Regions from separate parts of the Homo sapiens genome. Here region 1 is linked to region 2. Evidence: fine-mapped expression QTL. A gene starts in region 2. The other region holds a variant in brackets. All regions are shown on one strand. Distances are between the middles of the regions.

What was found. PIP is the estimated chance that this variant, and not a neighbour inherited with it, causes the effect.
Region 1: its variant is the best candidate, but not a certain one, in a credible set for the expression of TSPAN3 in lung (TOPMed, PIP 0.61).

The regions. Positions count from the first base shown.
Region 1 is chr15:77,040,420-77,045,737 of GRCh38, reverse strand. It overlaps TSPAN3 (tetraspanin 3), which reads left to right. Exons shown (of 7, transcript NM_005724.6): 7 at 1-4,334. Among named protein-coding and RNA genes, the nearest start is that of TSPAN3, 28 kb to the left of the region's middle. RefSeq lists an enhancer at 1,401-2,600. The variant G/A (reference allele first, on the strand shown) is at 2,189.
Region 2 is chr15:77,068,917-77,074,289 of GRCh38, reverse strand. It overlaps TSPAN3 (tetraspanin 3), which reads left to right and starts at 3,181. Exons shown (of 7, transcript NM_005724.6): 1 at 3,181-3,398. The coding sequence starts at 3,336. RefSeq lists an enhancer at 2,815-2,874 and a silencer at 3,015-3,714.

The sequences.
Region 1 (5,318 bases), 29 kb after region 2:
TTTTCACACTGCAGTGGTTGTAGTAATAGAATGGGAGTCCAAAGGGGAGTTCCGGAGAGGTCAGGGGTGACTTCCTGGAGGAGATGCCCAAGCTTGGAGGCTGGATAGGCTTTGTTGAAAGATGGTACACAAGAGTGTGAAACAAAATTGTGTGTGCAGGGAGCTTAAAATACAAGGCTGGGGAAAGAAGTTGGAGAAGCAGGAAAGCCCAGGCCCTCTAGTGTCTTACGGAACATCCTGTGGAGGTGAGAGCTGACTTGTAGGTGGAAGCAGCTCTTTGGAGGTTTGATTTGGAAGGTGAACTGAGAAGAAGGTGGTGATGCAAGCCGGCCGTGCTGAAGCCAGGATGAATTGGTGTGACTGGGCTTCAGTTAGGCTGGCATAGCAGTTGAGAGAGCTTAGCAGTGGGCAGCAGGGCACTGTTGGGGGCGGTGGTGAGCGGTGGATTCTGGCTGTTTGGAGGCAGGACAGTGGTGGAATTCGATCATTGATTGGACGTGGGACAGAGAAGGGAGAAGAGAAGACTCATCTAGGATGAGTCCCAGGTTTCTGGCTCAGTCAACTGGGGAAACAAAGTCACAGAGCTAGGGAGTAGTTAGAGAACACATCTGGGGGTGTGACTCATGGTCAGTTTTGGGCTCGTCAGTTTTGAGATGCCCAAATATCATGCAGATCTGTCCCACCTGAAAATGGAGAAGACACGGGAAAGGAGAGGAGTAAAAACTAACTCCTTTTCACAAAGTGGAAGTTACCAGAATGTGATTTCAGAGGCCCCGGGGGATTTATCATGTGACTACTGACCCATCCCACCTCTTGCCCCTGCCTGTTGCACAGTGGGCAAGAATGTTTGTGACCTTTCACTACCACCACCTCCCCCGAGCATGGTCCCCCCAGTTTTCAATATGAACCATCCTGTGGGTACCCTGTCACAGGCTGGCCCTGAGGTGAGCAATATTTGGACTGTGATGTTGGTTGTTCTCCACTCTTTCTACAGGACAGAACAGGGCCTCTAGAGTGGGAAATGGCTTTGGGAAATATGCCAAGCAGTAGCCTTGTTCTTCAACTTGCCCAAGAGGATAATTCTCCACACCCTTCCTGTACTCAGTCCTCAGTTTGCCTGGTGAGAGAGCAGCCTCCTCCCGTGTGCTCTGCCAGCTGGACCCAGACTGGCCATATTACCAGTGAGACCAAAAAGATGGAGGTGGGGAGGTAGCTCTGAGGTCTGGGAAACCATTCCAGCTCCTGCCAGTTTTAACTTGTGTTTAATTCCTGGCACAGTTGTCCTGGAAATGCCTTTTTCTCTTGCCTGGGAACCACTAGAAGGGGATGTTGTCTGTGTTGGCCAGGGCCATGCAAATTCAACATCTTGTTTCTGCCCTTCCCCCGTGTAGCTGAGGCTAGGTGTTGGCATTACCCAGTGCTTGTTCTTCAGAGAGCAAAAGCACTGCTCGTCATGTCTGAAATTTAGTGAGTGAGCTCACCCACTAGGCTGGTGTTTCCTGCCCGTGGCTGCACATTGGAAGCACCGGGGCACTTTGAGAACTACAGATGCCTGGGTCCCAGAGCATCTAAGGTGCTCTAGGGTGTGTCCAGGACACAGCCCTGGTTGAGGACCACTGCTATATTGTATGGCCTCTTTTAAAAAAGTTAATTTTACTTGGAAATGATTTCAAAGCTACAGAAAAGTTGCAAGAATAAAAACTGTACAAATGAGGCTCAAATATCCTTTGCCCAGATACACCTATTAACATTTCGTCCCATTCTATCTGTCATGTGTGTTCTCAAATGTGTGTGCGTTCTCTCTCCCTTGCGCCAACCCCCTGTCTCTCCCTCTCCCTCCCTCCTGCTGCCTCCACACCTGTCATGGCCTTTTACCCCTAATACCTCAGTGGGTACTTACCAAGAAGAAGATACTCTCTGACGACTGCAGTACAGTTGTCAAATTCCGTCCATCTAACACTGATAGAATACCTCACCACTCATATTCCCATTGGCCGCATCGTGTCCTCTATAGCACCTTTCCCTCTGCGGTGCTGGATCTGGTCTGGATCAGGTAATCAGTTGAGTTGTCATGTCTCCTTGGTCTTCTTTAATCTGGATCATTTCCATAGCTTTGTCTGTGATGATAGGAACAGTTTGTAAGGATACAGTTCGTTTTAGGTGGTGCTGCTTATCTGTGTTTGTCTGC[G/A]ATTTCCTCGTGATTAGATTTGGTTTTGCATTCCAGGTGGCTGAACCACTACCTGCGTCACGCGGCCTCTCAGGGCATCGCATCTCGAGGCACACAATGCCCATCTGCCCCACAGTGGGGATGTTCGTTTTGATCATCTAGTCCAAGGAGGAGGAAATGTGAACAGGAAGGTTTTAATATAAGTAATTGTTAACTGTGTAGAAGGTAGTTAACTACTAAAAGGGATAAAAAAGAGCTCTAAAGCAGCTTAGCAGAGAACAGCCATCACCCCTAGGGCTAAGGGAAGAGAAAACAGAGAAGGAACGTGGAAACTCAGAGGAGGTTCCCCAAGGTGGAGAGACCTCCGAGGGGTGGCTGTGGTTGCCTGGGATATGCTGCCTGTCCCATGCTGGAGAATCAACTTACTGGAGGTGCCCCCCCGCCAAGCCACAGGAGCAGAGAGCTGTCACGGTGGGGAATGCTGCTGGGACCCGTGCAGGACGAAAGGAGACAGAAGAAAAAGGCCATCTTCCTCCTCTAGCCTTGTTAGCCCCTTCAGAGCCCACTGTGGGTCAGGCTGGCAAAGGGTAAAGGAGTTTTCAGAGCCCCCTCTTCAGTGTGACAAGGAAGGGCAAGGTCAGGGAAATTTGGAGTTAAGAGGCAATAAATGAGTACCTGGCACACCTAGTCGAGGTGTGTCCACTTTCTCCATAGCATGGTTACTGTTTTTTTCTTTTCAACTAATAAGAAATCTCTGGAGACACACTGTCTCCATGTACATACCCTGTTCCTCATGAGACTCTTCCCCATTCCCCGACCAGGTTCAGCAAATGTTGCTGATTCTGGCCTGATTCAATCTTTATGATGACTGCCAAGCGACGTTTCTGCAGCCCAGCACTCCTTCCTCATTTGCCAGTCATCCCTCCCTTCTCCTTCATTTATTTTCATATATCCACTATGGATTCCCATTTTTTCAAAAGTCGACTTCATCATTGACCTTTGGGGATGGGGGAAGAGTTCCTCAGATAGTTCCCGACTTGGCCAGCGAGAGCCCCTTCGAGTGCCTCCTATATCCCAGCATTTTTGGAAGCACTCCCCTAATTTCTGATCTAACAAGATGTTCCAGGCCCCTGGGCACCAGCCATGGATCAGTGTTTGTCCCAGGAGCCCTGGTCCCTGGCACTAGGTGTGCTTATTGCAGCTGGGGTGTCTTTGCTTCTTGTCCTATAGATGATTGACAGAGCTTGTCTTACTGCCTTTTTTAAGTGTATTTTTTTAAACAAAAGTAATTGGTGCTTTAAAAAATGTGAACAATACAGACATCTGTAAAGAAGTACCCACAGGGAAGCAAGTTCAGCAGTTCAGCAATGGCATGTGTCTTTGCAGACTACATACACAGAAACAGACTTGGTATTGGGTTTTGGTTTTTGCTTTTTGCTAATAGGAATTTTATCCTACAAGATCCTCTTTCTGTCTTCACAACATAGTCTGATGCTCCTTCCATGTCTAACTGTAGGATTTGTCATTCCATTGTGTTAGCTGTGTGGGTACATTAGTACCATGATTAACCAAGGTGTATAAAGGGCAGGCCTGCAGGCTGCCTCCAGTGCCTCCACTACTCGCCACAGTGATCATCTCTATACACACACTGCAGTCATTTACAATTTTTAAAATGAAAACAATTTTTATTGAGATGCAATTCACATGGCATAAAATTAACGATTTTAAAGTAAAGAAGTTGCCTTGAGTACATTCACCATGCTATAGAACCACTGCCTGTATCTAGTTTCAAAGCACTTTCATCACCCTGTGTCATGTATTTTTACATGAACTCCAAGGGTGGATTCTTGTTAGTTGGATTTACTCTGGATGGAAAAGTCATGTTTGGCTGGGTGCAGTGGCTCATGCCTGTAATCATAGCACTTTGGGAGGTCGAGACAGGTGGGTCACTTGAGATCAGGAGTTCAAAACCAGCCTGGCCAACATGGTGAAACCCATCTCTATTAAAAATACAAAAAATTAGCAGGGCCTGGTGGCATGCACCTGTAATCCCAGCTACTTGGGAGGCTGAGGCAGGAGAATCGCTTGAACCGGGAGGCAGAGGTTGCAGTGAGCCGAGATTATGCCACTGCACTCCAGCCTGGGTGACAGAGCAAGACTCTGTCTCAAAAAAAAAAAAAAAAAAAGTCACGTTTAAACATTTTCATGGATACATCTGGTTGCTCTCCAGAAAGCTTATATCAATTTCTATTCCCACCAGCAGTGAATGAAATGTGCATTTCTTTACACCCTTGTTGACACTTTTGGTGTGATCAGCCTTCATCTTTTCTTCCATTCTGAGAGATGAAAATATGTGTTTATTTGACTGTTAGCTAGGGCCAGGATGCTTTTAAAGGTGTTTCAGCCATTTGTATCTTCTGAATTTTGCTTCTGTCCTCTGCCCGGTTTGATTGGTTATTGGGTTTTTTTCTTTCGGATCTTAACAGAGTTTACTTAGGAAACTTTTCTGTGAAGCTTAATGTCTGTAGCTATTGTGAATGCAATGGTTTTCCTAACTTATTTCCGAGTTGGTGGTTGTTGGTGTGTAACAGCACCTGCTTTTTGGGTGCATCCTTGCAGTTCTTGAAAATAACTTGTGTGTTGCACGTGGCTTTCTATTGCAGTGCCTGTGAGATCTGTGAGGTCTCCTGAGGGTGTAACACAGTGACGTGGCAGAAACCTCGTATCTACTGAATGGTGCTGCTGCATTGCTATTTGTGGGGAAGTTGAGTCATACATAAATCCTGCTCCCCTGAGTTTATCCAATGAAGAAAGTAAGACAGATGTAGAAATTATAGGGTAGAAAAGAGACTTGCTGATCTTTTTTTTTTTTTCCCCGAGACAGAGTCTTGCCCTGTCATCCAGGCTGGAGTTCAGTGGCACGATCTTAGCTTACTGCAACCTCCGCCTCCTGGGTTCAAGCAGTTCTGCCTCAGCCTCCCACATAGCTGGGATTACAGGCGCGCACCACCACGCCTGGCTAATTTTTGTATTTTTAGTAGAGACGGGGTTTTACCCTGTTGGTCAGGCTAGTCTCGAACTCCTGACCTCGTGATCCGCCCGCCTCCGCCTCCCAAAGTGCTGGGACTACAGGCGTGAGCCACCGTGCCCG
Region 2 (5,373 bases):
CTAACCACTATGTTGCTAGAACCACCCCCCACCACGTGGCATAGGGTCAGGCACAGAGTAGGTAACCAATAAATGTGTTGAATCAATAAATGAATCCACCTGGAGCAACACAGCAGGCAGTCGGATTCATGGAAAGGAAATTGAGAGAAAGACCTGGGCTGAAGCTGTAGGTTCAGGAAAGTCCTGCACGTGGATAGCAACGGAATCCAGTGCTCTGGGTGAGCTGGCCCAGGTTGGTTGAGAAAATCAAAAGACCTAAGCCAGAACTCTGGGAGACACCAACATCCAATGGGTGCAAGGAACAGGTGCTGCTGCAAAGGCAGACAGTGAACTAAGAGATGATGGTGTTATGGAAGCTAAGGAAAGGCAGAGTTCTGAGTACGAAGAAGTCAACGGAGCCAAATATGGTTAGGTCTCGGAAACAGTAAACTCCGGTGATTACAAAGCACCTGTGTGCCAGGTACTTTTCTGACAGCTATATGTATATGAATGCACTTAATTCTCACAGCAATCACATGATAATTAGGGAAGTAATGTCATCATCATTTTCTCCCTATGATGGGGATACTGAGGCACAGAGAGAGGACCCAGCTAGGCTACCTGGTCCCCGAGCCTGTGCTCTTAACCATGATATATGCCACCTCAGAGAAGGGGTAGCAGATAAGTCACTGGTAACATTGACAAGAGCGATATCGGTGGCACTGTGGGGGTGATGCCACATGGCAGTGAGTCAAAAAGTGAGGCCAGGCACGATGGCTCACGCCTGTAATCCCAACACTTTGAGAGGCCAAGGCAGGTGGATCATGAGGTCAGGAGTTCAAGACCAGCCTGACCAACATGGTGAAACCCCGTCTCTACTAAAAATACAAAAATTAGCCAGGTGTGGTGGTGGACACCTGTAATTCCAGCTACTCAGGAGGCTGAAGCAGGAGAATCGCTTGAACCTGGGAGGCGGAGGTTGCAGTGAGCGGAGATTGCACCACTGCACTCCAGCCTGGGCGACAGAGCGAGACTACATCTCAACAACAAAAAAAAGTGAGTGGGAAGCAAAAGAGTCAAGGGCAGAAGTCCAGCCCCTTGCTACAAAGAGGGGCCCAGCTGCACCCCCACCACCTGGAGTCTGCATCCTCAGGTGATCTGTGCGCAAGGCAAAGTCTGAGAAGCACTGGATGAGATGACTCTTTTAGGAACTTTGGCTAAGAGAAGAAAGAAAAAGTAAAACATGGTGTTTAAGTGAGAGGCTTTTCTTTTTAGGATAGGAGAGGCATGACCATGCTTGTAAACTCAGAACTGTGGTTTGCAGCCCCAACAGCATATTCGAATCACCTGGTGTGTTTTTGAAAAACACCTGATTCCCTGAGGCTCGCCCCCAGAGAATCTGATGGAGTTTGTCTGTGTGGCCCAGATGATTGTAATGTGGGGGGGGGGGGGGTCTGAGACCCACTCAAGGAGAAGGCACAAGAAGGACTTGATGAGACCTTCACAGGGAAATGAGAAGGGACACGATGAGGATGAAGAAATGCAAAGGGGATGTTTTGGAAAAGGAGGAAAAGCACTCAGAGCAAAGCAGACAGAGAAATTTACAGAGGGCAGAGGCGTCAAGAAGATAGATGTTCAAAGGGAATCATGTTTGAGAGCCCATCATTTTTCTTTCTTTAACTAGGACCTCCATGGTATGGCAAGAATGGCACTTGAAACACTTAGATGGTGTTACTGGTCTGCTCAAAGGCTTCTGCCTGGCGTAGTAGGCTGTTGGTGATCCGGCCTCGCTCACCTCCAGCACACTAGGCTCTCTGTGTTCCCCTTCCTACAGCACAGTGATCATGTTCCGGTCTCTGGGCCTTTGTCCTTGCTGCTCTCATCTTTGGGCTGTTCCCCTCACCTCCCTTGGGTCCCCTCCAATGTTCTCTCCTCAGAGAGGACTCCTCTCATCACTCTATTCCTTTCCTCTGAATTGTTTCCTAACACTACCTCATGTCATATACCCACTTGCCCGTTTGTTTATGGTCTGCCTCCTCTGCCCGAACGAATGTAAGCCATGGAAGGAAGGATACGTCTTGCTCACAGTGGAATATCCACCACCGACAACAGTGAGGCCCAGAGGGGACACGCGGCAAGTTTGATGAGTGAATAAATGGCTGTTGCTGCTGCTTGGTGTAAATGCACAGGATGCTGAGATTAACAGGTACTTCTGAGAGTGCCTGGGAAAGGTGATGAGTGGGGGAGATTGCATGAGAGCGAGCTGATAAAGACCAGTAAATGGAAATCCTTACGGGCGCGGTCAAGGAGGGAGTGCAGGATTATAATGGCAGGAAAGACAGCAAACAGAGGCAGTTTATTGTGTGACTGATGATGTGTTTTTTGCACTAGACCACTTACTATGTGTGGCTCTGGGCGAACTTCTTAACCTTTCTAAGCCTCAATTACCCGATCAGTAAAATGAGGCTGATAACCATAGTGCCTTCCATCCAGGGTTGTGGTGGGGGTTAAATGAACTAATGGAGCCTGGCACCGGGTGAGCACCCAATAATTAATTGCTATGACGGATTCAAGATTGGGGGAAGAATGTGAAATGTTGCAATGCAAAGAGATGTTTCTGTAATCGTTGCGAATCTTGGTCCAAAACTTACTACCCTGGAATAGAACTTGTTCCCAACCACTCACCCACACAAACATGTCTCTGCCTTGCTAACGCCATCACCAGCCTTTTCTCCTCTCTGACTCTTCTGAGGTCTAGCCCAGCGCCTGGTACAATAAGTTTCTCCATAAGTATTTGTTGTTTTTCTTTGCACTTCTCACCAACAGTGCTGCCAAGATTTTAACCTGGTCAGGAGAATCTGGTCAGGCAGAGATTAGTGTCTCCAACCTTCCTAGGGGAGAATGGGCTAGGTAGAAAGATAGCACTCAGAGGGCTCTGAATCATCTATAAGGGTGGCATAGTCATAGGAGGAGAGTGGGTTTGGTCCACCAGAACCTCCCTAGGGAGCCATCTGCGTCCAAGGGCGGCCAGAGGCCAAGAAAAGGCGCTGAGGCCTTGGCTCCTTTAAGAGGCGTGGCCTCACTGCAGCCTCCGCAGAGGCGATTGGCTGAAGCTACCGGCCGCGTGGGGCGGGACTCGGTTGCCAGGGAGCGGCGCGGGAGCCCTGAGGGGACTGCGGCGGCTGCGCGGAGGAGCGAGGCACTTGCTGGGGTCGGGGCTGCGCGACGGCGCAGGGGCTGCGGGGAGCGCCGCGCAGGCCGTGCAGTTCCTAGCGAGGAGGCGCCGCCGCCATTGCCGCTCTCTCGGTGAGCGCAGCCCCGCTCTCCGGGCCGGGCCTTCGCGGGCCACCGGCGCCATGGGCCAGTGCGGCATCACCTCCTCCAAGACCGTGCTGGTCTTTCTCAACCTCATCTTCTGGGTGAGCGGGGCCGGGCAGAGCGAGGGGCCGGCGGCGGGGCCGGGCGAGGCCGCGGCGGAGGCGCCCGTGGGGGCCGGGCTTGGGCCTGGGCGGGCGCGCGGGGGCCGCGCGCGGGCCCTCAGGCGGCTGAGGCGAGGGGAGGGCCGGGTGTGAGGCCGCTTCGCGAGGTCCCTGCCGGACCAAGCCGGGAGCCTGGGCGCGGAGGACAGCGAGGGGAGGCCTTCAGGGACTCCACGGCCTCCAGCCGGCGCCTCCGCGCTCGGCCCACGCGGGCTGGCTCCGTGCCAGGCGCCCCAGTCTCCCCCCCCCGGAGTCGCCGGCTGGACGGAGAGCGCTTATTGCAGACTGTAGCAGGACGTCGGGCTCGAAATAGGATCTTCGCCAGAGGCTCAGGTTCCGCGCTCTTTGTCGGGGCCTCGCAGACGAGTGGCCGTCCCGAGGCGGGCAGATCCGCGGGGACGCTGCGGAGCCGGGGCGGGGGTTCCACTTAACGCCCTTTGTGTGTGGAGAACCGGCTGACTGTCACCAGCCCAGAAAATGAAGGGTTTCAACTCGAGGAGCCAAATAATCCATTGACCAAGAACATCGGTCTATTTGTTTTGGTCATGGGGGTGACCAAACTGTGAGATTATAACTCTTGGTTAAATATATGATGGAGATGTCACAAGATTTTGAAAGTGATGAGTTCACTTTCAATAAAAGGTGGCTTATGAATTTTTAAGGGGTACACCCTCTTTGAAAGGAATGTTTATGTCATCTTAGTTTGGGTCCTTATCTCATCAGGGACTTTTATAGTAACCTAAGTTGTTCCTATCCGTCTCTCCACCCTCCAGCCCATCTGGACTTTGCACCCGGATAAATCTTTTAAAACGTTTCCTCTATCACATCACTTGATCTGAAAATAAGGAAAACAGAAGCTTCAGCGGTAGAATAAGGTTCAACTCCTTCCCCTGGTCTTGGAGCAGAAGTCCTCAGTCTGGTCCCAAATCACCTTGCCTCTCTGAACTTGTCATTTCCTTAAACACTTGAGTGCCCTGGACAGATTGCTCTGTCCACAGTCGCCAGAGCACTCCTTGAACATTCCGGTTAACCATACTGTGCCTCTTCCTCCTCCCCATTCAGCTCCTCCCTCCCACGCATACGCACACCTGTTCTGGAAAGAATCCTTTCCTCCTCCCCCGACCCCCCAACAAGGGATAAAACTTCATATCCTGACAGCTGTCTCATAAAAGGATGGTTATATGTTAAAAAGCACTTGCTACACACTTGTATTGCCAGAGTCCTTCGGGGCGTTTGTGTGTGAAGAGTCCTAACTGGGAGGTAGTAGCTGTTGGCAAACACCCAGGCGACATTGGCATTTCCGTGATTTCTTCTTTTCCAATTAGAGCAGTGTTTCTTATACTTTAATTTGAGTTACAGGCTTATTTATTTATTTTATTTTATTTTTTCAGTTTCTTGAGTTTATTGTGAAGAATGAAATGCACATATAGAACCAGTTCCATTAGCAAAAGTCGTATCAGTCTTCTCTTTGTAGATGTGGCATGATTTGTGAATCTGACCATTATAAGGGCATCTTTTGCTAATTTAATACGTATCTATATACCTACTGCTACTTATGCATCCATAACATTTTTTATTCCATAAAGAGAAATGTATTCTACAATGATTAAGTCATTAATTCTCATAGCATCTCGTTATAAACCAGGAGTCAGCAATCTCTGGCCCAAGAGCACAAAACGGTTAGCTACCTGTTTTTCTACAACCTGAGAGCCCAGAATAATATTTACATTTCTAAATGACTGGAAAACAAATGAAAAGAAGAATACTATTTCTTGGCATGTAGAAATTATATGACGTTCTCCTACCATTCGACCCAGCAATCCCACTACTGGGTACATACCCAAAGGAATATAAATCATTCTGTTATAAAGACACTTGCACGCATATATTCACTGCAGCACCGTTCACAATAGCA